4 linked regions of the Homo sapiens genome follow. The protein of the gene in region 1 purifies or fractionates together with the protein of each later gene. This does not show direct contact. Each region holds a gene or a part of one and is shown in the gene's direction. Other genes may lie near its edges.

Region 1 (7,025 bases):
GGGCACGGTGGCGCATGCCTGTGGTCTCAGCTGCTCAGGAGGCTGAGTGAGGTGGGCAGATTGATTGAGCCTGAAAGTTAGAAGCTATAGTGAGCCAAGATCATGCCACTGCACTCCAGCCTGGGTGACAGAGCGAGACCCTGTCTCAAAAAAAAAAAAAAAAAGAAAAATTAAAAAAGAAATACTTAGGGCTTGGGAGTGTTTTGAGTTTCCTAACAAAATTCCGCTATTAGCACTAGAGACTGCGAGCACAAGGGTGAGTGGTGCCCAGTCCCTGTCCTCAAGGAGCTTGTGGTCTAGAGACAGACAGGCAAGGAGACTGTCAACAGCTGGCTTGGCCCAGGGAAGGGTGCCCTGCCCAGGCATGCAGATCTGGAAGATTGTGCCCCACGTGATGCGTAGGAGTGATTTAAGGAAAGAGGAGGAGGTGGGGAGCATGGAGAGCAGTGAATACAAGGTCCACAGGAGCCTCAGACAGCGAGGACTTGGAATGGACACTGGAGGGAGGTGGCTGCAGAGGGGGAATTTTCATACCACTCTAAGGAGTTCAGACAGTAGGGCACCAAGCAGGGGTTTTAAGCAAAGGAGTGAAATTAACAGATTTGTCCAAGAAATACCATTCTAGCAGTAGAGGGCATGGGGCAAGCCTGGGGCCAAAGACCAATCAATGAGGCTGTCAGGTAAATCCAGAAAGGAGGAAAGTAGATGGATTTGGTGAAGTGTAAAGAAGGGAAAATTGGCAGGACTTGGTAATCATTTGGGGTAGAAAAGAACTGAAGGGTGGCTTGCAGGTTTCTGCTCCAGCATTGTGGTTTGCGATGGAGGGAATTTGCACAAGCTGAGTTTGAATTGCCTATAGAACAGAAGGCAGAAGAAGAGCCTACAAATGAGACTGAGAAAGGAGCAGCCAGATAAGTGAGAAGGGAGACCAGGGATGCGTGGCATCCCCAAAGCAGGGAGGGGCCCGCAGTGCTAAGTGAGAACTCAGGGGAAGGGCTGAAACGTGAGTGATGATGTGCTTACACCGATGTCCTTGGCACCTGCGTTGGTGAGATATTTTGGTGAGGTGGCAAGCTCAGAAGCCAGATTGGAAAGACTGGAGAAAATGAATGAGTAGTGAGGAGAAGAGACAGTAGCTTCCTTTAAGAAGCCAGAGAAAGCAGCCCACTCTCAAAAGACACTTAATCTAGGCTGGGTATGGTGGCTGACACCTGTAATCCCAGCATTTTGGGAGGCGAAGGCAGGTGGATCACCTGAGGTCAGGAGTATGAGACCAGCTTGGCTAACATGGAGAAACCCTATCTTTACTAAAAATACAAAAATTAGCTGGGCATGATGGTGGGCACCTGTAATCCCAGCTACTCAGGAGGCTGAGGCAGGAGAATCGCTTGAACCTGGGAGGCAGAGGTTGCAGTGAGCCAAGATAGTGCCATTGCATCCAGCTGGCGAGATAGCGCCACTGCACTCCAGCCTGGGCAACAGAGTGAGACTCTGTCTCAAAAAAGAACAAAAATCAACTGGGCGCGGTGGCGCCTGCCTGTGGTCTCAGCTGCTCTGGAGGCTGAGTGAGGTGGGAGGATTGATTGAGCCTGAAAGCTTGGGTGACAGAGTGAGACTCTGTCTCAAAAAGTAAATCAATAAATAAACAAATAGACTTAATCTAAAGGGAGAACAAACAAGGCAGCAGGGCACAGAGGGAGAGGGCATTATTTATGGCTCTCAGGATCTGAGTACCTTCAATATTGACTAAAAGAAAGAAAATTAGAACGTCTTAGAGCAAGCACTGTTACAGGTTGAGTACCCCTTATCTGAGATGTTTGGAACCAGAAATGTTTCAGATTTTTAATTTTTTTTTTATTTTGGAATATTTGCATATCCATAATGAGATATCTTGGGGATGGGACCCAAGTCTAGGCAATGGAATTCATTTATGTTTCATATACACCTTATACACATAGACCGAAGGTACTTTCGTACAATATTTTAAATAATTTTGTGCATGAAGCAAAGTTTGTGTGCACTGAGTTATTAGAGAGCAAAGGGTGGCTATTTCAGCCACCCATGGCTCTTCAACCAATCTGTGGTTGTTAGGCATCATATCATTTCTGACTCCAAATTTATATGCTGCCGATAAGCAATCTTTTTCTTGCATGTAGTCACACATAAGTACTTCACAGTAAGAAATACAACATACCATTAATACAGTGGAAAAGTTGTGTGTTCAGAGTAACTGAGCAGCACAGTAGCATGACCAGAATACCTGTGTCAGCTGCTAGACAACAGCAACAGCAAGCAACAGCAGCTTTCGGTCTCTACCTACAATGCTGTGTTTTGATTAAAAGGTTACTGTACTGTAACCCCCTTGGGGATGCAGAAATAAACTGTGTGTTGTGCGCCTGCATTTTGAATGCAGCCGCCCATGGGGCAGGTGTGAAATGTTCCACTTGTGGCCTCATGGTGGCACTCAAAAAGGCTGGAATTGTGGAGCATTTTGGATTTTCCAATGAGGGATGCTCAGCCTGCCCTAGAGAGAAGTCCCTGACGAGGCTGGTAGGAAGGCATGGAACAAGCCAACCACGCGCTCTGTATACTAGAGTTCAGGCCCATTTCCTGTTGGTTTGTCACATATAGAACAACAGATCAGTTGGGGACAGGCTTAAAATAGCCCTTGGAGACTGTTGTTAAGTCGTCCCCAAACCACTTCCCCTTTCATTGATTAAATGACATTTTAGGATAACCCACCTTGCCTGTGCCTCCTGGGGACTCTTGGCAGAAGAGTCAAGGATGGGTGTGCCATAGAGAATCATGGAGCCAGGGAATTACATAACGGGGAGACCATATACTCCAACCCCTTCTGTGTAGGGAGAAACTGAGGCCTCTGCCCTTCCCCCTTTTGATGCTGTGTGGGAAGGAAATTTTAAAGGACTTATTCTAAAAATCTGAGGGAAAACAAAAGAAAGTTGAATAACTGCGAAAATCGGATGCCACCCAAAGGGCCCTGTTTGTTTTTATTATTTGCGGCTCTCTGCTGTGAGCTCCCTTCTCAGCCATTTCTCTATTCTCAATCCGGGATCCCTTCTAGACAGATGCCTTTAAAATGTTTAGAATCTTCCTTCTTCCTTGAACAGGCTAGGTCTAGTATCATTAGCATGACCCTTACCAAGAAATCAACAGATCAGCTCCAAATGGAGTAGAAGGTTCTTGTCTTAAATGCTGACTTCTCCAGGTCCCTGCCACCCAGCCCAGTCAGGGCCCAGAAGAGCTTTCATCCAGTGCAGGAGTCATTTTCAGGAAGGACCCTCTCTCAGGGATGTGCCCAGGTGTCTGCACAGGTTGCTGTCACAGAGCTGGCTCCCTTTTGGGAGCAAGGTTTCAGGATGTTGCCTCTGACCCCAGCCCCAGGAATAGCACCAGGAGCACTAACTCAGATGTTGTTTTTTTCTAGGTTCCTTCTGACCAAGGGGACATGGCTCTGAAGATGATGAGACTGGTGACTCAGCAAGAATAGGATGGATGGGGCTGGAGATGAGCTGGTTTGGCCTTGGGGCACAGAGCTGAGCTGAGGCCGCTGAAGCTGTAGGAAGCGCCATTCTTCCCTGTATCTAACTGGGGCTGTGATCAAGAAGGTTCTGACCAGCTTCTGCAGAGGATAAAATCATTGTCTCTGGAGGCAATTTGGAAATTATTTCTGCTTCTTAAAAAAACCTAAGATTTTTTAAAAAATTGATTTGTTTTGATCAAAATAAAGGATGATAATAGATATTATTTTTTCTTATGACAGAAGCAAATGATGTGATTTATAGAAAAACTGGGAAATACAGGTACCCAAAGAGTAAATCAACATCTGTATACCCCCTTCCCAGGGGTAAGCACTGTTACCAATTTAGCATATGTCCTTGCAGAATTTTTTTTTCTATATATACATATATATTTTTTACCAAAATGAATCATTACTCTATGTTGTTTTACTATTTGTTTGACATATCAGTATATCTGAAACACCTTTTCATGTCAATAAATGTTCTTCTCTAACATTTTTAATGGCTGTGGAGCATTCTACTTTATGGTTGTACTCTAGTTTATTTACAAAATTCCCAGTTGTTTCCGACAAGTATAATAATTTCTAGTTTGTTGCTATTATACATAGTGCTCTGTTGATTCACCCTGATAGTTAGATTTTTTTGTACCTCCTTATTTTCTTAGAATAAATTCATAAAAGTGTAATTATTTAGTCAGAGGATTGCCACATTTCCTTAAAATCAAAATAATTAGCTCAGGACTTTTAACTTTTTATTCATAGCTCAAGATCTACATAAGGAGGTTTGATGCCGTGGCTCACACCTATAAACCCAGCACTTTGGGAGGTCGAGGCAGGAGGAATGCTTGAGCCCAGGAGTTCAACAACAGCCTGGGCAACATAGGGAGACCCCATTTCTACAAAAAAAATAAAAACATTAGCCGAGCATGGTGGCACACACCTGTAGTCCCAGCTACTCAGGAGGCTGAGGCAGGAGGATCACTTGAGCCAGGGAGGTTGATGTTGCAGTGAGCCATGATCAAGCCACTCACTCCAGCCTGGGTGACAGAGACCCCATCTCAAAAAGAAAAAAAAATCTGCATAGGGGATCTAACAGCTTCTAGGACTGTCTGAAAGAAATATCACCTCTTGTAGTTGCAGGGCTGAGATTTTATTTATTTATTTATTGAGACTCTGTGACCCAGGCTAGAGTGCAGTGGCACAATCATGCCTCAAATGATCCTCCTGCCCCAGCCTCCCAAGTAGCTAGTACCACAGGCAAGCACCATCACATCCAGCTAATTTTTAAAATTTTTTCGTAGAGTTGGAGTCTCACTATGTGGCCCAGGCTGGTCTCGAACTCCCAGGCTCTAGCAATCCACCTGCCTTGGGCTCCCAAAGTGCTGGGATTACAGGCATGAGTCACCAAGCCTGGCCAAAGGCTGAGATTTAAAAAAACAGCCAGGCACGGTGGCTCCAGCCTGTAATCCCAGCACTTCGGGAGGCCAAGGCGGGCAGATCACGAGGTCAGGAGATCGAGACCATCCTGGCTAACACGGTGAAACCCCATCTCTACACACACACACACACAAAATTAGCCAGGCGTGGTGGCGGGCACCTGTAGTCCCAGCTAGTTGGGAGGCTGAGGCAGGAGAATGGCGTGAACCCGGGAGGCAGTGCTTGCAGTGAGCCGAGATCGCGCCACTGCACTCCAGCCTGGGCAACAGAGCAAGACTCTGTCCCAAAAATAAATAAATAAATTAATTAATTAAAAAAAATAACAAACCCAAAGCTTATTCCTGCAGACTGTGAGGAAACAGTTAACAGCAGGTTATGTCTACGTGACTAACCCCTTCAGACCCTGAGACTAAAAACAGGCTCCTGGGACAGAGACTACACATGTCCCTATGGTTCACTGTTGGCAAGAACTCCAGTGTGCCCATGGAAAGCAAGAACCTTAGAAGCCTGTGCTGGATACCCCTGGACATCACCCATGTGTATCGTTTTTACCTGCCGCTTTTGATATGCATCTTTTGTTACAAAAATGTTAGCTATTAGTATAACCTGCTACTGAGCCTTGTGAGTCTTGGTGAACCATCCAACAAAGCAGTGAATCATAAAGCAAGTTGAATTCCCAACCTCACAGAGTCTCTTCTGTTAAAAGTTAGTGCATTGATTGAGAAGAAATGTAATTCTGAACATTGAGATGAGTCACCTGCACAGATGAAGCTAGGGGACCTCAAACCTTTTTGGCCATTAGAAGCCGCCCTTCCATTGCTGTCCGGGCAGGTTAATCATGTCTTGTCCTAAGATCTTGTAGTAAATTCCTAGACTTGCCCAGGGCTCTTATTCCTGCTGTATAACATTCTCTCTCAACCCACACCCCTACCTTCCTAGGGAATCCCTGTGATCAGTTGACAAAGGAAGACAACTCTCAGGCTTGATTTACAGACGGGGCTCCACAGTATGCATGCATCACCTGAATGTGGACCGCTATGGCACCACGGCCACACTCCAGGACAGCCCTGAAAGATGGTGTGAAGAGAAATCCTCCCAGTGGACAGAACTTGGAACAGTGCACTCAGCTCTTCACTTTCCCTGGAAGGGGAAATGAACAGAAGAATAAGTGCACCAATTCATGATTTAGCTGGGTATTTAGGGACTTGGAAGAAACTTGATTAGAAGGCTGGGCACAGTGGTTCATGCCTATAATACCAGCACTTTGAGAGGCTGAGGTGGGAGAATCCCTTGAGTCCAGGAGTTCAAGACCAGCTTGAGCAAGATGATAACACCCTGTATCTACAGAAAATAAAAACATTAACTCAGCATGTTGGTGCACCTCTGTGGTTTCAGCTGTGTAGGAGGCTGAGGTAGGAGAATCACTTGAGCCTGGCAGGTTGGTTGAGGCTACAGCGAGCCATATTTGTACTCCAGCCTGAGTGACAGGGTGAGACCTTGTCTCAAAAAGAAAAAAAACTTGATTAGAAAATTGATGACAAGAAGCTCTGAGGAAGAGGTATGAGATTAGATCTCTGAATGGCCGAGTATGAAGATCATTGTTTTCCATCTGAATACTCAACTAGGGCAAGGGAAGATTTTAATAATCAGGTGGGTAGATGACCCATTCTGTGGCTATTAGCCTCCTTCAGCCATTCCTGTAGACTCATGAACAAAGTGGCCATGGCGGCGGGGATGGAGGCTATGCATGGGCTTGGCAACATGTGCTTCCACTTACTAAGGGTGACCTGGTCACAGCCACTGCTGAGTGCCCCATCTGCCAGCAGAAGAAACAACACTGAGCCCCTAATGTGGCATCACTGCTGAAGAGATCAGCCGGCTACCTGGTGTTAGGCTGATTACATTGGACCACTTTTATTATGAGGCAGGCAGCACTGTGTTTTCAATGGAATTAACCCTTGCTCTGGACATAGATGTGCCTTCCTTTCCCACAATGCTTCTGCCAAAACTAGCATCTGTGGACCTACGGAGTGTCTCATCCATGACTATG
Region 2 (5,825 bases), on another chromosome or scaffold:
GCGACGTGGGCGACGGCAGCAGTACGTCCAGCGCGGGCAGCGGCGGCAGCCCCGACCACCACCACCACGTCCCACCCCCGCTGCTGCCCCCCGGGCCGCACAAGGCCCCCGACGGCAAGGCAGGAGCCACACGTCGGTCCCTGGACGACTTGTCGGCGCCGCCGCACCACCGCAGCATCCCCAACGGCCTGCACGGTAAGGACTACACGGGCCGGGCAGCGCGGGTCTCCCTGGCTGCAGCCCTTTTCCCAGGCTGCGGCGAGAGGAGGTGGTCCCTGGCTGTCCCACTCATGCGGCCGCCACTCCAGACTCCTCCAGCTGTCATGGATCCTGGGCCAGGGGATCCCGCACTCACCCAAAGTGGGGCTTTGGGCGGTGGTGGGCCGGTTCAGTGGTGGAGCGTCTTTTTGTCCAGCTCAGAACCTGCTGCCGGTCCGGTCCCAGAAAAGTTTCTAGCGGGTGTAGTTGCCAAAATTAGGGTCTGTCACTGCTGGGCTGGCGGTGGGCGCCTCATCCCAGCCTTGGAAATCCTTGCCTAGTAGCGGGAAGTTCTAAACAGCAAAGGATACAAGGCCCCTTGAGCGCAAGTGAATTTCCCCTCTTGCAGCAACAGGTGTCCTCCAAACCAAGCAGCGTCCACGTGTGTGCGGTGGCTGGAGTTCTGCAGTGGGGTGTGGGGATTGGGAAGGTGCACAGGCAGCCGCTTGAGACCCAGAGGCAGTTGGGGAGAGGCCTGGGGCTCAGAGCCTTTCTTGTTTGCCATAAATTCCGCCCTTCTAGTCCTGGGACCTTTCTCAGCCGAGACTCTAAGACTTTCCCGAGGGAGATGTATTTGGAACGGATTCTAGCTTTTCTCCTCTGTGTGCCTCAGTTTCTTTGTCTGTGAAATGGAGATGATGACCTCTGCCTCGTGGGTTTGAGGTGGAGATAAACCTTCTGAAGGGATTTATAAACTGTTGATCGCCTTACAGGAAGTGCCGTGGTCATCCGTGACCAGGGTGTGGGTGGGAGGAACTTTGGCCTCTGTCAGCTTCTGTCTTCTACGCCCATGTTACTGCTGCGCCCAGTGCAGAGGGTGGCCCCAGCTTGGGGCTGTGGGAGCTTGCAGCCTGCTCCCTCTCCCAGCCCCCTGCTCAGCCCTTCTGCTCCCTGCCAGCTTTCTCCTCCTCGCTGGTGGATCCGGGGCCTCCCTGTTCTTCCACGTTTTTTGGTAGCTTGGCTTCCAGTTCTGCTGGTAGTTGCAACTGCCTGAACTTTTTGCCTGAAGGTGGAGAATGAACAGCTCTTTCTGGTTCCCTTTAAAGCCTTTCCTAATTCAGAGAAAGTGTGTCTAAGCCTGCAATAACTGCCCTCCCCAGAACCCCTCAGCCTGAGCTGGGGAGGGACGTTTTCTCCTTAGTTTGGTGGCCAAGTGGCCTCTGCAGACGTGTTGGGGTGGGGGCTGGGGTGGGAGACATACCCATGGAGGTGGGGCAGGGGCAGTGCAGCATGTTTTTCCTTTATTTACCATCCTGAGCCTGTGGGTTCAAGGCAGGACTGGGTTTAGAGGGATATTTTGTTACTGATTAGCAATCTATGGCTACAACTCAGGTTTCTCTTTGTAACACTGTATCCACCCCCACCTCCCACCACAGGCTGCTTCAGGGCAGTGGGAGTAGCGCAAAGTTAGGTGGTTTAATTTGCTGGGGCTGTTCAGAGCACCTCAGCCCCTTTGATTTTGCCGTCCTGGGGGCTTTTGAGGGGTCAGTTATCTGGGCCTCGGTTTCCCTAAGTGCAGTCCAAAGAGCAGATTGCTGCAGTCTCGTGGCTGGAAAGTGAAATGTTTCTGGTTTTCAGCTGCGTCATCAATGACACTTGGCAAGAGTGCCTCTCTGCAGGACACTGGAGGGCTGGAGTGTTTAGAGCATACTTGCAGGAAAGGCTCTGTCGAGTTTTGGGCAAGGAGATGCGGCCCCAGTCTGGCTCAGCATGTCAGCTGCGACAGTGAATAATACAGGAGTGGAGGACTAGGCTACACTGAGTTTTCCACCCCACTGGGGGTCAGTGGGAGGTTGAAGTATAGGGTTTCCCACAGAACCCATCCTCCCCCAAGCCCACTTAGCACAGGACTGCTGCAAATGTTGTGGCAGCAAACCTTGCTTTGGGGTGAAATGAAAATTCAGCATTATTATTACAAATTTCGGTTACAGATGGAATTATTATTATTTAGTTTTGTCTCTTAAAGCCATGTGTGGCCTTGGGATGTGGTCCCACTAATGTAAATGGAAGGCTTGGAAACCAGGAAAGGCCCTTCTCTTAGAAACTGAGCTGTTCTTTCTTTCTTTTTTCCCTTTTTTCGAGACAGGGTGTCACTCTGTCACCCAGGCTAGAGTGCAATGGAACACTCATGGCTCACTACAGCCTCAACCTCCCAGGCTTAAGTGATCCTCCCAGCTCAGCCTCCCAAGTAGCTGTGATTAGAGCCATGAGCCACCTCACCTGGTGAAACTGGGCTTTTCTATTCTGGGACTTGTAACTTTAAATTGAGCAAAGATTGGGCCTGAGCTGAGGGAGATAATGAGTCTCTGTCTGGGTGGTGTCTAAAGTGGGGTCAGACACCAGGCTTGCGCCTTATGTGTTTGGTCTTTGCTTCTTCTCACAGGAACCCTGGGGAAGCAGTATTATCCCCATTTGACAGACAAGCAAGTGGAGGCTTAGAGGGGTTCCTAGCCTTGTCTGGGAAGGTGGCTGACATTGGAAGTACCTGTCCTGGGTGGGTTTGCTGCCATGATCATCTCGTGTTCAGGCCTTGGGTCTGAATCTGTTGTGCCCTTGGTCTGTTGTCATGTTTGCTGTTACTGTTAATCAGGGGACACTGGTGACTCCCTATTCTTGATTCCTGACCCAGGTTTGCCCTCTTTCTCCCATGCTGGGAAGTGTCACTTCCTTATCAGTGACCATTGAGCAGATGGCTGATAACCCCGTTACCCAGAGGCTCAGGGTGACTTGAGTTTGAATCTCAGCTCCTCCATGTATACTGGGCAAGTTATTAACTGGCCAAGCCTCTCTGTGCTCCTCTTCTGTAAGATGGACAGAACCCAGAGTGCCCCATTATTCACACAAGGTTGAGTGAGGTCAGGATCTACACACAGTAGGTTTCTCCTGTTGTTAGGGTCCTTGGGGCTCTCCCAACAGACCTCAGTTTCCTCTTCAAAAGTGCTTGCTGCTTAGACAGCTCACCTGAATGTTTGCATCTGAGCCTCTTGTGTGGCAGCACTTGCTGATGAGCTAGTGAGGACAGTGGCCCTGCTGTCCTTTCTGGGGAGCTGGTGGCAGTTGCAGCCCTGCTGGGTGCCCTGGGCAGACTCTAGTGGCTGAGGTGGGAGGTGGCCCATCTGTATGCAAGGCAGCCCTGGCTGAGGCTGGCCTGGTGGGCCTGTGTATTGTGTATGTACATGCAAATAGGCTTTTCTCCTTGGCTGCTTATTTATTTATTTATTATTTATTTAGAGACAGGGTCTCTCTGGTCACCCAGGCTAGAGTGCAATGGCACCATCATGGCTCGCGGCAACCTCAACCTCCTGGGCTCAAGTAATCCTCTTGCCTCGGCCTCCTGGGATGTGTGCTACCATGCCCAGATAATTTTTGAATTTTTTGTAGAGACTGGATCTCACTATGTTGCCCAGGCTGGTCTCGAACACCTGGGTTCAAGCAGTCCTCCTGCCTTGGCCTCCCAAAGTGTTGGGATTACAGACGTGAGCCACTGCACCTGGCCTTGGCTGCCTTTGGTAGAGGTCTGGTCTGGGCTGACTGGACTTGGGACTGGGCTGTGCGTTGCTCTAGTCCAGTGTGGCACACTGAGACAGGTAAACCCCAACACCAGAAAGTCAGGTTCTCCTTCATGAACTGATAGGATTTTCAAACAAAAGAATTTTCAGTTCTTTTTCCAGCTGCCCCTCCGCCTGTCTCCTGTGCCCCACGACAGGCACCATGCCCCCCTCCTGCCCATTGCCAGGCATTTCCTTCCCTCCCCTGATAACCTGCTCCTCCACGGTCCACTCCCCTTTAGCCAACCTGGAGGAACTAGGATTCTAGCAAGCCTGTGCATGAGCCCCATTTACTTTTTAAAGTTCGGATTAAAATTTTGAGCTTCTCAAAATGAGACAGGTTTGTTCTCCTGCTTGTGTTTTTGTTGGTTTAAGAGGGAGGATGGAACGGGGTGGTCTGGGCCTTTAGAAAAAGACAGAGCACGCTAACTCTGAATAGGTCTTTTCTGTGCAGCAGCTCGGCTAATAAGGCTGCTTTTCCTAAACCCAGCCAAGCTCAGGAACAAAGGTCAGTGAAGACAATGGGGTGGGTTAGATAAGCCTTTCCCCCTCCTTCCCCAGCCTGTCCCAAGGGATCCATCAATGGCCTTGGGATGCTGGGCCTCAGAAAGGAGGGCTGGCCTTGAGAGGCTCCCAGGCAGGTGACCCAGGGGTGGGTAAACTGTGCCCAGTGCTTCACAGTTTGCCACAAACAGCATCCCAGTCCCAATTCCATTCTGTTCAGAGCTTCCAAATGGTCCCAGGAGGGAGACCTTAGCATCTCCATATCTTAGATGGGGAAATCAGGGCTTGGAGTGGTGGTGCGGTGACTTGCTCTAGGTCCTGTGGGGCTGATTGGGGGGCCTGGGATGCGTCTTGGGTCTCCTGTGTCAGAATTCTGAGCCCATGGCCCTGTGCCTGCTGCCCAGAGAGTTCCAGGGGAGCGGTGACCTCTGCCACAGAGACAGGGCACCTCCTCCCAGGATGCCAGGCCCGGGGCCTCATTCCTGTCTCCCTGTGTCCTGGCATGGAGGAGTGGGGGAAGGCGGTGCAGGGTGGGCCACCTTCCCTACGATGGCTGTGGCTCCCCATCTCTTGGTTTCTCCTTCCCTCACTTCTCTGCACGAGGCTGGCTTGCCACCGCAGCAGTCGCCCCACCAGACCTCTTGCTCAGGCCTGGCCTCTGAGTTCCCAGGACCAGCACGTGATACAGAAGGAAATCAGTGGTTGCTCCTAATCTGTTTTCCGCCGGTGGGGATTTTCCAATCCATGCTTGTTGCCTTCATTTGCGCAGAGAATTGGAAGTCTGTTAAGCAAGTTCCTGAGCCTCCATGGGCCTCTGTTTTCTCTTTTGCCAAGTGGGAAAATGTTACTAACCTTTGGGTTGAGGGAGGAGGGTGTGTAGTGAGTGATACGTGTAGCCTCTGGCGGGTGGCAGCCCCTGATGTGCGAAGGCCCCATCTCCCGCTGCAGCGCTCGGCACCCCGCATGCCGAGGGGCATGTAGCCCTCTGGTTAGTGATCTGCCTCCAGGGTCAGAGAGCCCTGGGTGAATCTTGGCTTTGCCACCTGCTTTATGGCCGTGGCAGCTTACTGAACCTCTAAGCCTCAGTTTCTTCATCTATATCCTGAGGCTAATAATGTCTCGATCCTAGAACTGGGCCTTAAAGGATGGGTTCCATGTCCTTTCATTATTTCCTGGCCTCTGCGGATTTGCCTTCCCTGGGTGGGAGTGGGAGATCCCCTGACACACGCTGGTACCCAGTGTAGGGTCGGAGGCAGCTGAGTCCTCATCTAGTTGAATGGAGGGAGCCAGCATTCCAGGCAGGAATAAGAATGGCTAAGGTTTGGAAGTGGGGTCTGGAGCATGGCATTGAGAATCCGGGGCCTGCAAGGTGGACCCAGGATGTGTGTGGGGAGATAACTCTTAGGGGGGTTAGTGCTGTGGGCAGCCCCACAGGGCAGACCCCAAAGTCCCAGCTTTTCAGACTTCAGTGCCCACAAGCAAGAGTGGCCCAGGTGGCCTGTGTTGCCTCCAGGG
Region 3 (7,956 bases), on another chromosome or scaffold:
TTAATCACTTTTAACGCCAAACAGCTGCGGCTCCATCTACAGTGTGCTGGAATCTGGGCTAGACCCAGATGAACCCAGCCTCGATTTGGGGGCTCCAGCAGGACTCACAGCACGGTGGTTGGTGGTGGTGGGGGCAGGGGGGTGGTTGCATGACATCTGGACCCAAGAGGCAGCTGTTGTGGCAGCAAGAGAGAGGAGAGAGATGAGGCCCCGTTCCTATATGGCTCTGCTCCCAGGGTCCCACATCCTCTGTTAAATGAGGGACTTGGGGTGGGGGGGGCGGTCCTTCCATCCCCTAGGGCTGGGGCGCCTAGCTGCCCAGCCATTGATCAGGCCAGCTTTCTGGAACCAACCACCCAAAGCACCATGGGGCTGTGGTTCCGAGGCCTGCCCTGGAAGTCCTGTGGAGTCTGCCCGCAGGGATGTGCAGGAGCTGTATTGTAGATGTCTCCTGCCATCAGCTGTCAGGTTATTTTGGTCCAAACTGAAAATACTCCAGGAATTGTGTGTGGAGTACCCCCAGCCTGCAGGGTGGGACTGCAGCAGTCAGGGAGGCCGGTTGTGTCTAAGGGCAGCTTCTGGAGAAGCAAGGAGTTTTCTGTGGTGAGCCTGCCTCTCTAGCTCCCCAGGGCCTACGTGAGCTGGGGTGCCTTCCTTTTGGTATCCGGCAGAGTGGCCTTGGCTATGGAAGTGCTAAGGGCATCCAGGGCCCTGCTGCTGCTCAGGGAGCTTGGCACTGATATGGGATACCCCCAGCAGCACTGCTGGGACCTCCCCTAGCTTCCCCCCCTTCCTCCAGGGCCTTGGCTTCTGGCTAGTCAGGGGCACTATGTGGGGACAGTTATGTGGCCCCGGGCAGAGAGAGGTCCCGCCGTCTGTTTGCTGAAGGAGGAAAAACAACACTCGGACTATTGATTCAGTCTCACCTTGGCGCTCCTGGCTCAGCAGCCAGTGTTTGCCCTGGCTGCCTGGGCTCGGATTACGCAAGGCTGGTGGGCGTGGAGCAAGCAAGGGGGCAGCTGGGGGCCTCCAGGCCCAGGCAGGGCAGGGCTTGGCGGCCCCAGCGTTCCCCAGGAAACTGTAAAAACGAGTCTGGGGCCCTGACTTTGCTGATAGCGGCCATCTCAGCCATAGAGGGAGGTGAAGCCTCTGTGATCTCCACCCCCGCACCCCCTCAGGACATGGCCCCTAAAAGCACCATCCCATTTAGGGTCACCCATTTTCTTCCTAGGAGCTGTGGGGCTTTGCGAATAACTCCCTATGGCTGAATCTGCTTTGCTGAACTAGGAAACCCTAGTGAGTTGTATAGATGCCATTCATTTAAGAACCTTGAAAAGCCAACATCTTATTCCCATGTAAAACATACCTAGGTGATTTGGAGAATACAGTGACACAAAGAAGAAAATAACAATTACTTGTAATTCTCACCATCTTGAGAGAACCACCGTTAACATTTTTTAGCGTGTGTATCCTTCCAGATTTCGCTTTAGTTTGTATAAATATACATGTATAAATAGTTTTTAAAAAATAAAATGGGATTATGTGTACATACTGCTTTATAATGCATCTTCTTTACCTTGATCATGGTGAACATTTATTCATTTGTTGTTTCTGATTTTGAGTGACTCAGGGCTTGATAGTCTTCATCCTGCTTCTTCTGTTACACTTTTTTTTTTTTTTTTTTTTTTGAGAGGGAGTATCGTTCTGTCGCACAGACTGGGAATGCAGTGGCGCGATCTTGGCTCACTGCAACCTCCACCTCCTGGGCTCAAGCAATTCTTGTGCCTCAGCCTCCCAAGTCGCTGGCACTACAAGCACCCGCCACCACACTTGGCTCATGTTTGTATTTTTAGTAGAGACGAGGTTGCACCATGTTGGCCAGGCTGGCCTCGAACTCCTGACCTCAGGTGATCCACCCGCCTCAGCCTCCCAAAGTGCTGGATGACAGAAGTGAGCCACCATGCCTGGCCCTTCTGTTACATTTCTTATATTCTTGCATGGAGAAAGGATTGGGGGGGATTGTGAGGGCATCCATCTGTCCATCTATGTGGCTGGCCTTGGGGGCTAGATTTCTTCTGGGGAGGACTAATTTTTTTACCCTTCTCCCCCAGATCTCATTTCAGGCCCCAATTGAAACTTGGGGTGGGCAGGGCAGCTTTAGTGCGTAGCAGGGGAGGAACTGACCCTCTCTCCCCTTTTCCCCTCTTGTTCCTCTCAGGGTCGGCACTCTTCACCCTCCCGAGCCCTGCCCGTCTCGGCCCCATGCCCCCACCAGTCAGCCCCGGGCCACAGGCAGTGAGCAGGCACCTGGGAGCCGAGGCCCTGTGACCAGGCCAAGGAGACGGGCGCTCCAGGGTCCCAGCCACCTGTCCCCCCCATGGAGCTGAGGCCCTGGTTGCTATGGGTGGTAGCAGCAACAGGAACCTTGGTCCTGCTAGCAGCTGATGCTCAGGGCCAGAAGGTCTTCACCAACACGTGGGCTGTGCGCATCCCTGGAGGCCCAGCGGTGGCCAACAGTGTGGCACGGAAGCATGGGTTCCTCAACCTGGGCCAGGTAGGTGTTCCCCCACAGGACACTGCCAGGGGGTGGGACCAGAGAAGACAGGGATTCTGGGAGCAGGAGCTGTTGGCCTTGTTTGCTCAGGGGCATCTGGGTAGCCGGCATGTTCTGGGTGGCCATGAGCAAAGCACAGGTGGTTCAGGCAAGCAGCATATCCCAGTGAGAGTGAGTCCTCATGGTCCCCGCATTTTGCTGGGTCCCGGACAGGGAGCAGATGCCCCGCACCCCCGACCGTGGCGAGCCTCCCATGAAGCCGTTGTCCACCCCCGTCCCCCGCCTCCCGGGGACTGACAGATGGAAAGCCCAGCTCAGTCTCCCTGCTCTATTGCAGATCTTCGGGGACTATTACCACTTCTGGCATCGAGGAGTGACGAAGCGGTCCCTGTCGCCTCACCGCCCGCGGCACAGCCGGCTGCAGAGGGAGCCTCAAGTGAGTGTGGCCCCAGCCCCCTCCTGCTGCCACCCTCCCCCTCCTGCTCTCAGGAGCCCCTCTCGCCTCCTGCTCCACCCACACCATCTCTCCCTCACTCCCCCACAGGTACAGTGGCTGGAACAGCAGGTGGCAAAGCGACGGACTAAACGGGACGTGTACCAGGAGCCCACAGACCCCAAGTTTCCTCAGCAGTGGTACCTGGTACGTGGCCTTCTTCGCTGCTGGGACCTCCTCCCCAGATGCACCATCCACCCACTATGAGCTCTTGGATGGAGGAGGCTGTCTTCGAGGCCTCCTCTGATTCGTTTCCTTTCCTCCTGCTGGGCAGTCTCTCCTTGGCCCATCCTAATAAGCAAGCCTGGGGGTGGCCCTCCCAGAGTCCTCTACATTCCCATGGAGTCCAGACAGCCAGTGGCGGCCTTTCAGGAGCAGGGATGGTACAGGAGGAGGTTTTACGGGGGCAAAGGGATTCTTCAAGATGCTCCTAGCCTCACAAAACCAATCATGTCTCATAAGTGATGGGGTGGGTGTCTCCACAGTCTGGTGTCACTCAGCGGGACCTGAATGTGAAGGCGGCCTGGGCGCAGGGCTACACAGGGCACGGCATTGTGGTCTCCATTCTGGACGATGGCATCGAGAAGAACCACCCGGACTTGGCAGGCAATTATGTGAGGAAGTCGGGGAGGGAGGCCGTGATCCCTGCTGAGGTGTGTCTAGAGGCTGTCTTGTTCTATCAGTGAGGTCAGCCTTCTCCTGATGGTGGCCAAATCCTTCTTAGGATCCTGGGGCCAGTTTTGATGTCAATGACCAGGACCCTGACCCCCAGCCTCGGTACACACAGATGAATGACAACAGGTAAGAAGTGGCAGGCCCCGGTCTCTGCCTCCCTTCTCCTTTCTTCCACTAAGGAACAGGGCTGAGCCTGGGTGAGATGTGCCTTGCCTAAAAGGCTGAGGCTTTTCCCACAGTCCTGGCCCACCTGGGGCTCTGAGGGAGGGCTCGGTCAGAGTGGAGATGGCCACAGGCCCAGTGGAGTGTGGGAGATGGGGGCTGGGTACTCAGGGGATGATGGGTGTCGGATGTGCGGATCCCTCGTGCTCCTCAGGCCACATCTGCCGGGCCCTGTTCACCCCATTTGTTCTACTCATGCTACGTGCTTGGCCCTGGCAGGCACGGCACACGGTGTGCGGGGGAAGTGGCTGCGGTGGCCAACAACGGTGTCTGTGGTGTAGGTGTGGCCTACAACGCCCGCATTGGAGGTGAGTGTGGGCCTGGGCCACCCTGTCTTCAGGAGGGCCCTTCAGTGGAATTTTTCCCGCCCACTTCCCATCTGGCCAATGCCTGCCACTTTCCCACTGTGGATCCTTTGATCACGTGGCTGTTCCATGGAGGGTTCCCAAAGGGTCAAAGACTGAAAGAGCTGGACCCCTGTGGAGTGAGGGTTTCCTAGCAGGAGTCTCCTGAAATCCTCACGACCCACTGTGAGTCCTCACGTGGCAGATCCTTGATCACCAGGCTCTTTTGGGAACCAGAGACTCTTTCTAGTCCTGAATGTGTGGTTGGGGGCAGGAGGTGTTCTCTTTTTCCTTCTCTGGGTCTTGTCTTTGAAAGGCAGAGGCAAACAGGTAGTTGGGGGTTCAGGGTTTCTCAGCATCAGCCTCCACCCTTCCCTTACTCATCCCCTGGGGTGCAGGGCTGGGTGTGCTCCTTGGGGTGGGGGCCCTGACAGCTGGACCCATGCAGCATCCCTCTTCGTGCCCCCCCTTCACGGCCAGGGGTGCGCATGCTGGATGGCGAGGTGACAGATGCAGTGGAGGCACGCTCGCTGGGCCTGAACCCCAACCACATCCACATCTACAGTGCCAGCTGGGGCCCCGAGGATGACGGCAAGACAGTGGATGGGCCAGCCCGCCTCGCCGAGGAGGCCTTCTTCCGTGGGGTTAGCCAGGTGAGGTGGGGATCTGTCCAGCCCCTGCGGGCAGGTTGGGTGCTGTCTTCCGTACCTATCTTGTGTTTTTTGGTTTGTTTTATTTATTCTCATGTTTAACTTTACACAAAGCATGTTTATTGAAACATTAAGGGACAGAAGAAGAGTAGAGTGCATATACCACTTGGACTTGCCTAATTAAAAAACACATTTTTTTTAGAAATGAGGTCTTGCTGTGTTACCCAGGCTGGTCTCAAACTCCTGGCCTCAAGCGATCCTCCCGCCTTGGCCTCTTGGTCTGATTTTTTGTGTGCCTAGATAGACATATTTGGATACATACTTGATCCACCAGGGATCTCACAGGGGACAGGAGGTTCCCAGAGAATGAGGCTCCAGCCTTCCCAGTTTTCCAGCAGTGTCCTCCTGCCAGCCCTCCCTCAAGTCCCAATCTTGAATGACCCCAGCCCACTCTGTCCACAGGGCCGAGGGGGGCTGGGCTCCATCTTTGTCTGGGCCTCGGGGAACGGGGGCCGGGAACATGACAGCTGCAACTGCGACGGCTACACCAACAGTATCTACACGCTGTCCATCAGCAGCGCCACGCAGTTTGGCAACGTGCCGTGGTACAGCGAGGCCTGCTCGTCCACACTGGCCACGACCTACAGCAGTGGCAACCAGAATGAGAAGCAGATCGTGAGTCTTACCTGGGGGTGGGGGCTGGGGAGATGGGGCTGCTGGCTGGCTCTGTCCAGCACCCTCTTTTGGAGGCTGTCTGCCTCCACCCCCATGTGGCTGGGTGATAGTGGCTCAGGCATCATGCAACATGAACTCTGGGGCTCTGTAGGTTCTTGGAGGCCATGGAGCCATCTCTGAAGACTTTGAAAAGCCTAGACTCTCTCTAAAAACATACTTTGTTCTTATTCATCTCCACCCTCTAGTTGAACCCCCTTATTCCTTTGGAAAATGAGGCCCAGGAGGGGCTCGTCATTAGCATGTCCACGGCAAGTTAGCAAGGCAGCAGCTGGGACCTGGGGTTCTTGGCCCTGGCTCCCCATACCATCTGTGGTGCCCAGGGCCTGTATGCAGAGGGAGGGTAGGCAGGTGGCTCCTCTAGCCCCCTCCACCCATCACAGGCCCCAATATGATTCTCTTCCTGGCAGGTGACGACTGACTTGCGGCAGAAGTGCACGGAGTCTCACACGGGCACCTCAGCCTCTGCCCCCTTAGCAGCCGGCATCATTGCTCTCACCCTGGAGGCCAAGTAAGTGGGTGGGGGCCAGCGGCAACCCTGTCCCTACCAGCACTCTCTGTAGGGCAGCCCTTAGGGCAGCTGGAGAGCTGCTCCCAAAAAAGACTGATCCCCAGCCTCTCCCTTCCTTCTTTGCAGTAAGAACCTCACATGGCGGGACATGCAACACCTGGTGGTACAGACCTCGAAGCCAGCCCACCTCAATGCCAACGACTGGGCCACCAATGGTGTGGGCCGGAAAGGTGAGGGCAGGCTGGCCCGGCAGGCTGGATGTGGAGTTAGGTAGAAGGCACTCTGTGCCTGACAGCTGACCCTACCTTCCCTGTCCCCACAGTGAGCCACTCATATGGCTACGGGCTTTTGGACGCAGGCGCCATGGTGGCCCTGGCCCAGAATTGGACCACAGTGGCCCCCCAGCGGAAGTGCATCATCGACATCCTCACCGAGCCCAAGTGAGGGCTGGACCCAGGCTGGGAGGGGGCCAGTGGGACCTGAGAGTCGCAGGGGGTGCCCGCTGGTCCCTCTGGGCCAGGCTGACCATCATGGTGCTCTCCTGCACAGAGACATCGGGAAACGGCTCGAGGTGCGGAAGACCGTGACCGCGTGCCTGGGCGAGCCCAACCACATCACTCGGCTGGAGCACGCTCAGGCGCGGCTCACCCTGTCCTATAATCGCCGTGGCGACCTGGCCATCCACCTGGTCAGCCCCATGGGCACCCGCTCCACCCTGCTGGCAGCCAGGTGCTTGCTCTGTCCCTGCCCGCCCTGCCCAGCGCCGCCGCCTCTCACAGCCCGCGTGCTTGCCTTTGCTCGCTCACACGGCCCAGGGGGCACTGAGTGCTACTCAGTGGGGCACTCTTGGCATTTTGGGAGGGACAATTTTGTCCTGTGGGACTGTCCCATGTTGCAGGAATCCCTGGCTTGCAACCATTTAATGTCAGTAGTGTGCCCCACCTTGTGCGGTGCCTGTGTACCTTTCTAGAATCCCCCAGTTGAGCACGTCTGGCTCACTGAGAAACAGCCAAGCCAGCAGGCACTTCTGGCCCCATGGGGTTGGTCTGCGTGGGGGAAGGGTGTGTGGCCCATGTGCTGTGGGTTAGATGTCCCTGGCTTGGGGTCCCGCAGAGGCCTCAGGGCTGTGTGCACTCCCCTCCCCAGGCCACATGACTACTCCGCAGATGGGTTTAATGACTGGGCCTTCATGACAACTCATTCCTGGGATGAGGATCCCTCTGGCGAGTGGGTCCTAGAGATTGAAAACACCAGCGAAGCCAACAACTATGGTACTGGGGGCACTTGAGGGGTAGGGGTACGAGGTGGAGGGCTGGCAGGATCTCGAGCACTGGGTGTGGTGCCAGCACTGTCTTAACTCTTGCCTCCTCCCCGCTCTGGAACAGGGACGCTGACCAAGTTCACCCTCGTACTCTATGGCACCGCCCCTGAGGGGCTGCCCGTACCTCCAGAAAGCAGTGGCTGCAAGACCCTCACGTCCAGTCAGGCCTGTGTGGGTCAGTAGTGGGTGCTGTTGGGCTTTGGGGGCCTGAGTCTGGGGGTAAGGCGGGTGCCTGTCCTGAAGCCCAGCTCTAACAGAAAAAAGTCTCAAGAGACCTAGGGCCCCTGGGGCTCTTGGGATGACCACAGTCCTGGGGCTGGAGGATCCTGGGGATGTGGTGACTTGGCTTGGGGCTGCTGTGGTCCTGGGGCTACAGTCTGTTTAGCTGACACACACTTGCCCTCTCTCCCACGCCGGCAGTGTGCGAGGAAGGCTTCTCCCTGCACCAGAAGAG
Region 4 (7,956 bases), on another chromosome or scaffold:
CTCGCTCTGTCTCCCAGGCTGGAGTGAAGTGGCGCGATCTCGGCTCACTGCAAGCTCCGCCTCCCAGGTTCACGCCATTCTCCTGCCTCAGACTCCCGAGTAGCTGGGACCACAGGCGCCCGCCACCATGCCCGGCTAATTTTTTGTACTTTTAGTAGAGACGGGGTTTCACAGTGTTAGCCAAGATGGTCTCCTTGACCTAGTGATCCAGCCGCCTCGGCCTCCCAAAGTGCGGGGATTACAGGCGTGAGCCCCCGCGCCCGGCCTGGGGGCTCTATTTTCAAGCGTCCCTCCTTTGTGAGAAGCGGAGTCCCCGATGCAACAGGTTTACATTGAAGGCCTGCCCTGTGCAGGGTCGACACCTGTGAGAGCGGAAACGGTGCTTCCTTGGATGTCGCGCGTTTGGTGCCTCGGTATTTGGCGCCTCTCTCGCATCATCCGAGGGGCCGGAGGAGAGAAGAAAATCAGGGAATCGGTAAATTGGAAAAATCATTCATCCGCATATCAGTGGGTCCTCCTGGCTTTGCTAAGTTAGGTCTTTACTGAGAGAGGGAGGGGAGTGTTTTGATCTTGTGGTGACCTTCAAACGTTCTCTTGCTTTTTTGGGAACTCGTATGGGCGTGTTCTGCGTTAACTTAAACAGGAGACTAAAAGGCTGAAACGCGTATGTAGAGATATTTAAACTCATTTCTAACTAGAAGAATGGCAATTAAACAACAAGATGCTGCTTGACCCTTACTAGGCTGGCCAAAATACGCTCCTGGGTGCCGGGTGGTGGAGGTGGAATGTAGGAATCCCGGAGGCGCGCTCTGGGCGCCCCGAGTCACTGCAGGTGGAGGAGAGCCGCGTGTGGACCTCACCGTGGAGACCTTGGCGGCAGCTTCACACCACGCCCTTGCTGCTTGCCGAGCAGCGTGAACGGATGTTGAAGGCGTAGAGCCAAGTAAACAGTGGACATACAATGCAATACCATTTCCACAGTTTGAGAAACAGAAGATACAGCCTTAAAGAGAACAAAAATTACATGTTAAACACCTTAGAATGGCTGCCCGATGGGAGAGGGAAGTGGAAATAAAAACGAGTGAATAGTATTTCTATACATTTGCAATAAGCAATGTGAAAATAAGACAGTTCCGAGTGAAGTGTGGGCGGTGAAGTGGAAAGCCAAAATTGCGCTTGTCTCCGCGCTGCGGACTTGAAACGCCTGTCACTGCGGTCTGGAAACGCCTGTCGCTGCGGTCTGGAAACGCCTCCGCGCTCTATCAGTCTGGGTCTCCTCGAGCTCGAAGTGGCGCCAGTGGGCTGCCGCCGCGCCCACCCGGTCCCATGCCCGTCCCGCGCCCCCTCCCGGGCCCGGCGCCCCCTCCTCAGGGGCCTTGGGTCCCCGCCACTTTCGTCCGGTCTCGGTCCCCGCGGATGCTGGTGGTGGTGGAGAAGGGCCGCGAGTTCTCAGGGAAGCGGAGAGGGAGGAACGCCGTTTGGCTGTGCGGCGGCGCCCAGTGACGGCAGCAGCAGCAGCAGCTCCTGGAGGAAGCTAGTTCCGGCTCGTCCAGCCACGAGGAGCGCGGCGGCGGCTGCATGAGGGTCGGACCCCAGAACCAGGCGTTGGTGCTGGACTTTGGCACCGGAAGAGACTGTGAAATGGAAAACCGTTTCGGAAGCTTTCGCCTAACAAATCATTTCCGCCTACAAGAAATTCCTACACCTTAGGATGGAGCATCTGTTTGCCTGGCTGCTATTCTGCGTGGAAGCAAATTTAAAGTGGTACAAGAAAAAAAAAATCCAGTCATACAAAGGAATTCGTCAGATTTTAATGCAAGAGATTCTAGCCCGTCTTTGTATGAGAATGTCTTTAAAGGTTGTTGATATAGAAAATGTTTTAAAGAACGTTAGGTTTTATTTCAGAAATGAAGTTGAAAAGAGCAATTTGTAAAGCTGTAGTTAACAGTCCTCCCTAGTTGGAGAGCTCTAGAACTGGAGGTTCTCTATGTAGGTTATACCACTAGTTGATTTGAAAAGATAAATGCATAAATGCTTTTCCTTGGAAACAAGACTGCAGAAAATTCCAAGGATCTAGTCCTTGAAAAAGGCGAATGCTGTTAAGCTGTTAAGGTACTACACTCTGTACCTTTAAATGAAAATACATGGAGGTCCTGGGTGAGCGCTTGGGCGCTCTGAAAATAGACGAGGTTTCCCAAATTTGCCTTCTAAATTTTGATTTGTTGATTTAAATCTTCTAAATTTATGTAGTCTGGCACTCAGGTTTGTATTCCTTTTAAGCACATGTTAGTGTTTTTGATATTTTCCCTTCTCCCTCCGACCCCCCAATTCTTCTTCTTTTTTTTTTTTTTTTTTTTTTTTTTTTGGTAGTCACTTTTCGTTTTTAAGAGTGACAATACAACTAGGTGGCCTGGCTGTTTCATATCCTTGGTTTCTCCATTTCTTGGTTGGCCACCAGGGGGAAGCATACTGTTTTTTTGGTTACAGTTGACCCTATCTTCATTTTGTAGGTCAAGTCTGTTTTTGCTTTGATACATAGAACAGAAAGCTTGTCACCGCGTTTCCCTAATGTATTATTTTAAAAAATAGACTTGCACAAATCTTTGAGTAAGTTGGCAGGTTTTTGGATACATTTTTGTTAACATTAATTTTGAAAACTTTATTTAGATATGTTGGATGTGACTAATGAAAGGACATGTTTGATGGCAACAAGGGGAATTCGGTTTCTGACATTTATCTAAATATAGATGTCTAGCTCTGCATTGTTAGTAATGAGTCTGACTTCTTTGGAGTTGTACTCTTCTTTGAAATAGCAAATGTAATATTTTGAACTGTCCTTGCACTTTTTGTTGGAATAGGTATAAGCGTAAACTTGCTAGCAACCTACTGTTCTAAAATGGAAAACATCTAGCCAGTCGCAGTGGCTCATACCTGTAATCCCAATACTTGAGGAGGCAATGAGAGGATTGCTTGAGCCCAGGAGTTAGAGACCAGTCTGGGCAACTTAGTAAGACTCCATCTCTACAAAAAATGAAAAAATTAGCTGAGCATGGTGGCATGTGCCTGTAGTCCCAACTACTTGGGAGGCTGAGACAGGAGGATCACTTGAGCCCAGGAGGTGGAGGCTGCAGTGAGCAGTGATAGCACCACTGCACTCCAGCTTGGGTGACACAGCGAGACCCTGTCTCTAAATAAATAAATAGGAAAACATCAAAAAAAAAAGAGAAAATTCTCTTTACAATAGCATCAAAAGATAAAATACTTATGAGTAAATTTAACGAAAGAAACAGAAAATATATACTCTGGAAACTGTAAAATATTGCTGAAAGAAATTTAAAATCTAAATAAATGAAATGGAAAAATGTCCTGTCTTAGTCTTGCCAGGCTACCATAACAGATATATACTGTGTGGCTTAAACAGAAATTTATTTCTCATGATTCTGGAGGCTGGGAAGTCCAAGAGGAAAGTGTGGATGATCTGGTTTCTGGTGAGAGCCTCATTTCTAGTTTATAGAAGGATACCTTCTTGCTGTATCTTTACGTGGTGGAGAGAGACATATCTCTCTGTCATGTCTTTTCTTATTTATTTATTTATTTGTTTGTTTTTGAGACAGAGTCTCACTCTGTCACTCGGGCTAGAGTGCAATGGCATTATCACGGCTGACTGCAGCCTTGAACTTCTGGGCACAAGGGATCCTCTCACCTCAGCCTCCCAAGTAGCTGGGACTACAAGTGCTAACCACCATGCTGGGCTAATTTATTTTTATTTTTTTGTAGAGACAAGGTCCCATTATATTGCCTAGTCTGGTCTGGAACACCTGGGCTCAAACGATCCTCTGGCCTCAGACTCTGGGAGTGCTGGGATTATAGGTGTGAACCACCAGGCCCAGCTTCATGTCTTGTCTTTTTCTTTTCTTTTCTTTCTTTCTTTTTTTTTTTTTTTTTTTGAGACAGAGTGTCGCTCTGTCACCCAGGCTGGAGTGCAGTGGCATGATCTCAGCTCACTGCAACCCCTGCCTCCTGGGTTCAAGCAATTCTCCTGCCTTAGCCTCCCGAGTAGCTGGGATTACAGGTGTGCACCACCACGCCTGGCTAATTTTTTGTATTTTTAGTAGAGATGGGGCTTCACCATGTTAGCCAGGATGGTCTCAATCTCCTGACCTCATGACCTGCCTGCCTGGGCCTCCCAAAGTGCTGGGATTACAGGCATGAGCCACCGTGCCTGGCCTCATGTCTTTTCTTGTAAGGGCACTAATCCCATTCGTGAGGACTTTCCTCTTATGACCTAATCGCTTCCCAAAGGCCCTGCCTCCAGATACCATCACACTGGGGGTCAGGCCTCCATATGAATTTTGGAGGACTCAAGCATTCAGTCCATAGCACATCTCAAAAAGATGTTCATACATTGGTAAACTGAACATTGTGTCCTCTTATTGCCACAGGTGATCTGAAAGTAGAGATGATGGCAGGGGGGACTCAGATCACACCCCTGAATGACAATGTCACCATATTCTGCAATATCTTTTATTCCCAACCCCTCAACATCACGTCTATGGGTATCACCTGGTTTTGGAAGAGTCTGACGTTTGACAAAGAAGTCAAAGTCTTTGAATTTTTTGGAGATCACCAAGAGGCATTCCGACCTGGAGCCATTGTGTCTCCATGGAGGCTGAAGAGTGGGGACGCCTCACTGCGGCTGCCTGGAATCCAGCTGGAGGAAGCAGGAGAGTACCGATGTGAGGTGGTGGTCACCCCTCTGAAGGCACAGGGAACAGTCCAGCTTGAAGTTGTGGGTGAGTGTCTCGGGGCAGTGCCCTACAGTTCCCATGGTGTTGGGGTTAGCAACAACAAAACCCACACACCTCTTTGAGCTCCACTTTCCTGTATTATAAAATGGTCTGATAATACATGGATGAGCTTGGTGGCTGTATTAGTTTGCTAAGGCTGCCATAACAAAATACCATTGACTGGATGCCTTTAAACAACAGATGTTTATTTTTCACACTTTTGGAAGGCTAGAAGTCTGAGATGAAGACATCAGCAGGATTGGTTTCTTCTGAGGCCTCTCTTCTCTGGCCATCTTCTCCCTGTGTCTTCACATGGTCTTTCCTTTGTGCCTATATCTGTGTCCTAATTTCCTCTTCTTATAAGGATACCAATCATATTGGATCAGAGCCCATCCTAATAACCCCATTTTTAACTTAATTACCTCTTTAAAGAACCTATCTCTAAATACAGTCACATTCAGAGATACTGGGAATTCTGGGAGGACATAAGAATTTTAGGAGGACATAATTCAGCCCAGCATGGGCCCTCCATAATTGTACATAAGACTTTGAATGTTTTGTCCGTAGTAATTTTGGGAGTGAGAGGCATATTAATTAGGATTCACTTCCTCTGCAACTGACAGAGGAATAACAGTGACAGTGGCTATATATACGGCCAACTGACAGTGGCCGTATATATATAGCCACTGTTCTTCTAGGCTTTATATATCTATATAAAGGGTCTACATAGGAGACAGGGTCTCCCTCTGTTGCCCAGGCTGGAGAGCATGGCACAATCATAGCTCACTGTAACCTCAAACTCCAGGGCTCAAGTGATCCCCCTGCCTCAGCCTCCTGAGTAGCTAGGACCTCGGTTGCATGCCACCATGCCTGGCGAATTTTTACATTTTTGTAGAGATGGGGCCTTGTGTTGCCCAGGCTCGTCTCCAACTTCTGGCCTCAAGAGATCCTTGTGCCCGGGCCTCTCAATGTGCTGGCATTACAGGGATGAACTACCATGCCTGGCCAACAGTGGCTTTTAAAGACATTAATAGACTTTTTTTAAGGACAGTTTTAGATTTACAGAAACATTGCAAAAATAGTATGAGAGTTCTCATATCACTCACGCCCTGCATACCATTTCCCCTGTTATTAACATCTTGTATTCGTATGGTACCTTGATATAATTAATGAACCCATATTGACATTTTACTATAATGAAAGTGTGTAATTTATTCATATTTCCTTAGTTTTTACCTAATGTCCTTTTCCTGCTCCAGGATCCCGTCAGAATACCACATTGCATTTAATTGTTATATGTTCTTAGGCTCCTTTTTGCTGTGACAATTTCTTAGACCTTATTTTTGATGTCCTTGACAGTTTGGTGAGGGTATTGGTCAGGTATATTGCAGGATGTCACTAAGTTAGGATTTGTCTGCTGTTTTCCTCATAATTGGACTTGGGGTTATGGGTTTTTGGAGGAACATCGCAGAGGTAAACTGCCATTTTCATCACATCAAATCACATGACTTATGACTGTTGATGTTGACCTTGACCATCTAGTTGAAGTAGTGTTTGTCTGGTTTCTCTACTGAAAAGTTACTCTTCCTCCTATTTTCATACTGTACTCTTTGAAAGGAAGTCACTCTGTGCAGCCCACACTTAAGGTTGGGGGTTACTTATGTTCTTCCTCCTTGGAGGTGGAGTATCTACATAATTTTTTTAAGAATTCTTCTGCATGGGAGATTTATCTCTTTTCTCCCATTTATGACTTTATTCAATCATTGATATCAATAAGGACTCAAGGATATTTATTTTATACTTTGTGTTATAATGCAATACTACTTTATTTTTTCTCAAATTTTTCCAGCTTTGGCCACGGGGAGCTCATTCACTTGGCTCTTGTGTCACATTGACATACCCCAATCATTGTAAGATTTTGTTTTGTTTTATTATTTTATTTTTTGTTTTATTTAATTTTTGGCAAATTCATATCAAGAATTTTGTTTGATTTTAAGCACTTTTTACATTTTGGCACTATAAGATGCTCCAGACTCATCTTGTATATTTCCTCTCTTGTATATTTCCTGGTTCTAGTCCTAGAACCAACCAATACTCCAAGAAACCTTGGTTCCTTTTATTGGAAAGTGATCTTAGAAACCAAGACCTGGACAGTAAGTGTACTTTTTGCTGCTGAGGTATCATTGATTCTAGACCCTCTCAGCCAACAGAGCAAAGAAATACATGTATGCATACTAACCTCTGCATATACACATATCTACAAATATTTCTATGTGTAACCATCTGTACCTATATTACATTAAACATTTGTTCTTACTGATGTCTCCAACTTTAGTCCATCACCACATAGATCATTCTAGTTTCCTTCTCTTGCTCATCTGTAAACTCCCACTCCAACAGTGAGAAACCTGTACCCACCATCCTCTGTTTATTGAATTAATTATTAACCTGTACTCCGATAAGAAACAACTTTATCTACTAGAGTACAGTGCTTTTTGGCAATTCCTTTTTTTTTTTTTTTTGAGATTTTTTTTTTGAGACAGTCTTGCTCTGTTGCCCAGGCCGGAGTGCAGTGGTGTGACCTTGGCTTACTGCAACCTCCACCTCCCAGGTTTAAGCGATTCTCCTGCCTTAGCCTCCCAGGTAACTAGGATTACAGGTGCCCGCCACCACGCCTGGCTAATTTTTGTATTTTTAGTAGAGATGGGGTCTCACCATGTTGGCCAGGCTGGTCTTGAACTCCTGACCTCAGATGATCTGCCCACCTCAGCTTCCCAAAGTACTGGGATTACAGGCATGAACCACCATACCCAGCCCAGATTTTAGCCATTTTAATAAGTATATAGTGGTATCTCATTTGTTGTTTTAATTAGCAGTTCCCTAATGATATAATGTTGGACATCTTTTCATATTCTTACTTGCCATTCGTATGTCTTCTTTTTTTGTGTGTTCATTGGTTGTCCAGGCTGGAGTGCAGTGGTGTGATTACAGCTCACTTCCCAGGCTCAGGTGATTCTCCCAGGCTTCAGCCTCCCAAGTAGCTAGGACTACAGGTGCACATCACCATGCCTGGCTAATTTTTGTATTTTTTGTAGAGATAGGGTTTTGCTGTGTTGCCCAGGCTGGTCTTGAACTCCTGGGCTCAAATGATCTGCGTGTCTCGGCCTCC

The links.
Region 2: the proteins of SCPEP1 (region 1) and CCDC85C purify together in Homo sapiens (affinity purification with mass spectrometry; one large-scale study listed by BioGRID and IntAct). This does not show direct contact.
Region 3: the proteins of SCPEP1 (region 1) and FURIN purify together in Homo sapiens (affinity purification with mass spectrometry; one large-scale study listed by BioGRID and IntAct). This does not show direct contact.
Region 4: the proteins of SCPEP1 (region 1) and NCR3LG1 purify together in Homo sapiens (affinity purification with mass spectrometry; one large-scale study listed by BioGRID and IntAct). This does not show direct contact.

What each region holds. Positions count from the first base shown.
Region 1 is NC_000017.11:57,002,728-57,009,752, forward strand, and holds the end of SCPEP1 (retinoid-inducible serine carboxypeptidase precursor), read left to right. Parts: intron 1-3,445; coding exon 3,446-3,508; 3' UTR 3,509-4,041; downstream 4,042-7,025. UniProt on the Homo sapiens protein: May be involved in vascular wall and kidney homeostasis.
Region 2 is NC_000014.9:99,597,537-99,603,361, reverse strand, and holds part of CCDC85C (coiled-coil domain-containing protein 85C), read left to right. Parts: coding exon 1-195; intron 196-5,825. UniProt on the Homo sapiens protein: May play a role in cell-cell adhesion and epithelium development through its interaction with proteins of the beta-catenin family. May play an important role in cortical development, especially in the maintenance of radial glia.
Region 3 is NC_000015.10:90,873,364-90,881,319, forward strand, and holds part of FURIN (furin isoform 1 preproprotein), read left to right. Parts: intron 1-2,218; 5' UTR 2,219-2,377; coding exon 2,378-2,554; intron 2,555-2,891; coding exon 2,892-2,990; intron 2,991-3,098; coding exon 3,099-3,194; intron 3,195-3,532; coding exon 3,533-3,661; intron 3,662-3,771; coding exon 3,772-3,848; intron 3,849-4,163; coding exon 4,164-4,252; intron 4,253-4,768; coding exon 4,769-4,941; intron 4,942-5,400; coding exon 5,401-5,613; intron 5,614-6,080; coding exon 6,081-6,181; intron 6,182-6,307; coding exon 6,308-6,411; intron 6,412-6,503; coding exon 6,504-6,621; intron 6,622-6,730; coding exon 6,731-6,910; intron 6,911-7,327; coding exon 7,328-7,452; intron 7,453-7,566; coding exon 7,567-7,677; intron 7,678-7,922; coding exon 7,923-7,956. UniProt on the Homo sapiens protein: Ubiquitous endoprotease within constitutive secretory pathways capable of cleavage at the RX(K/R)R consensus motif. Mediates processing of TGFB1, an essential step in TGF-beta-1 activation.
Region 4 is NC_000011.10:17,352,209-17,360,164, forward strand, and holds part of NCR3LG1 (natural cytotoxicity triggering receptor 3 ligand 1 precursor), read left to right. Parts: exon of another isoform or gene 1-475; intron 476-1,256; exon of another isoform or gene 1,257-1,764; intron 1,765-4,442; coding exon 4,443-4,793; intron 4,794-7,956. UniProt on the Homo sapiens protein: Triggers NCR3-dependent natural killer cell activation.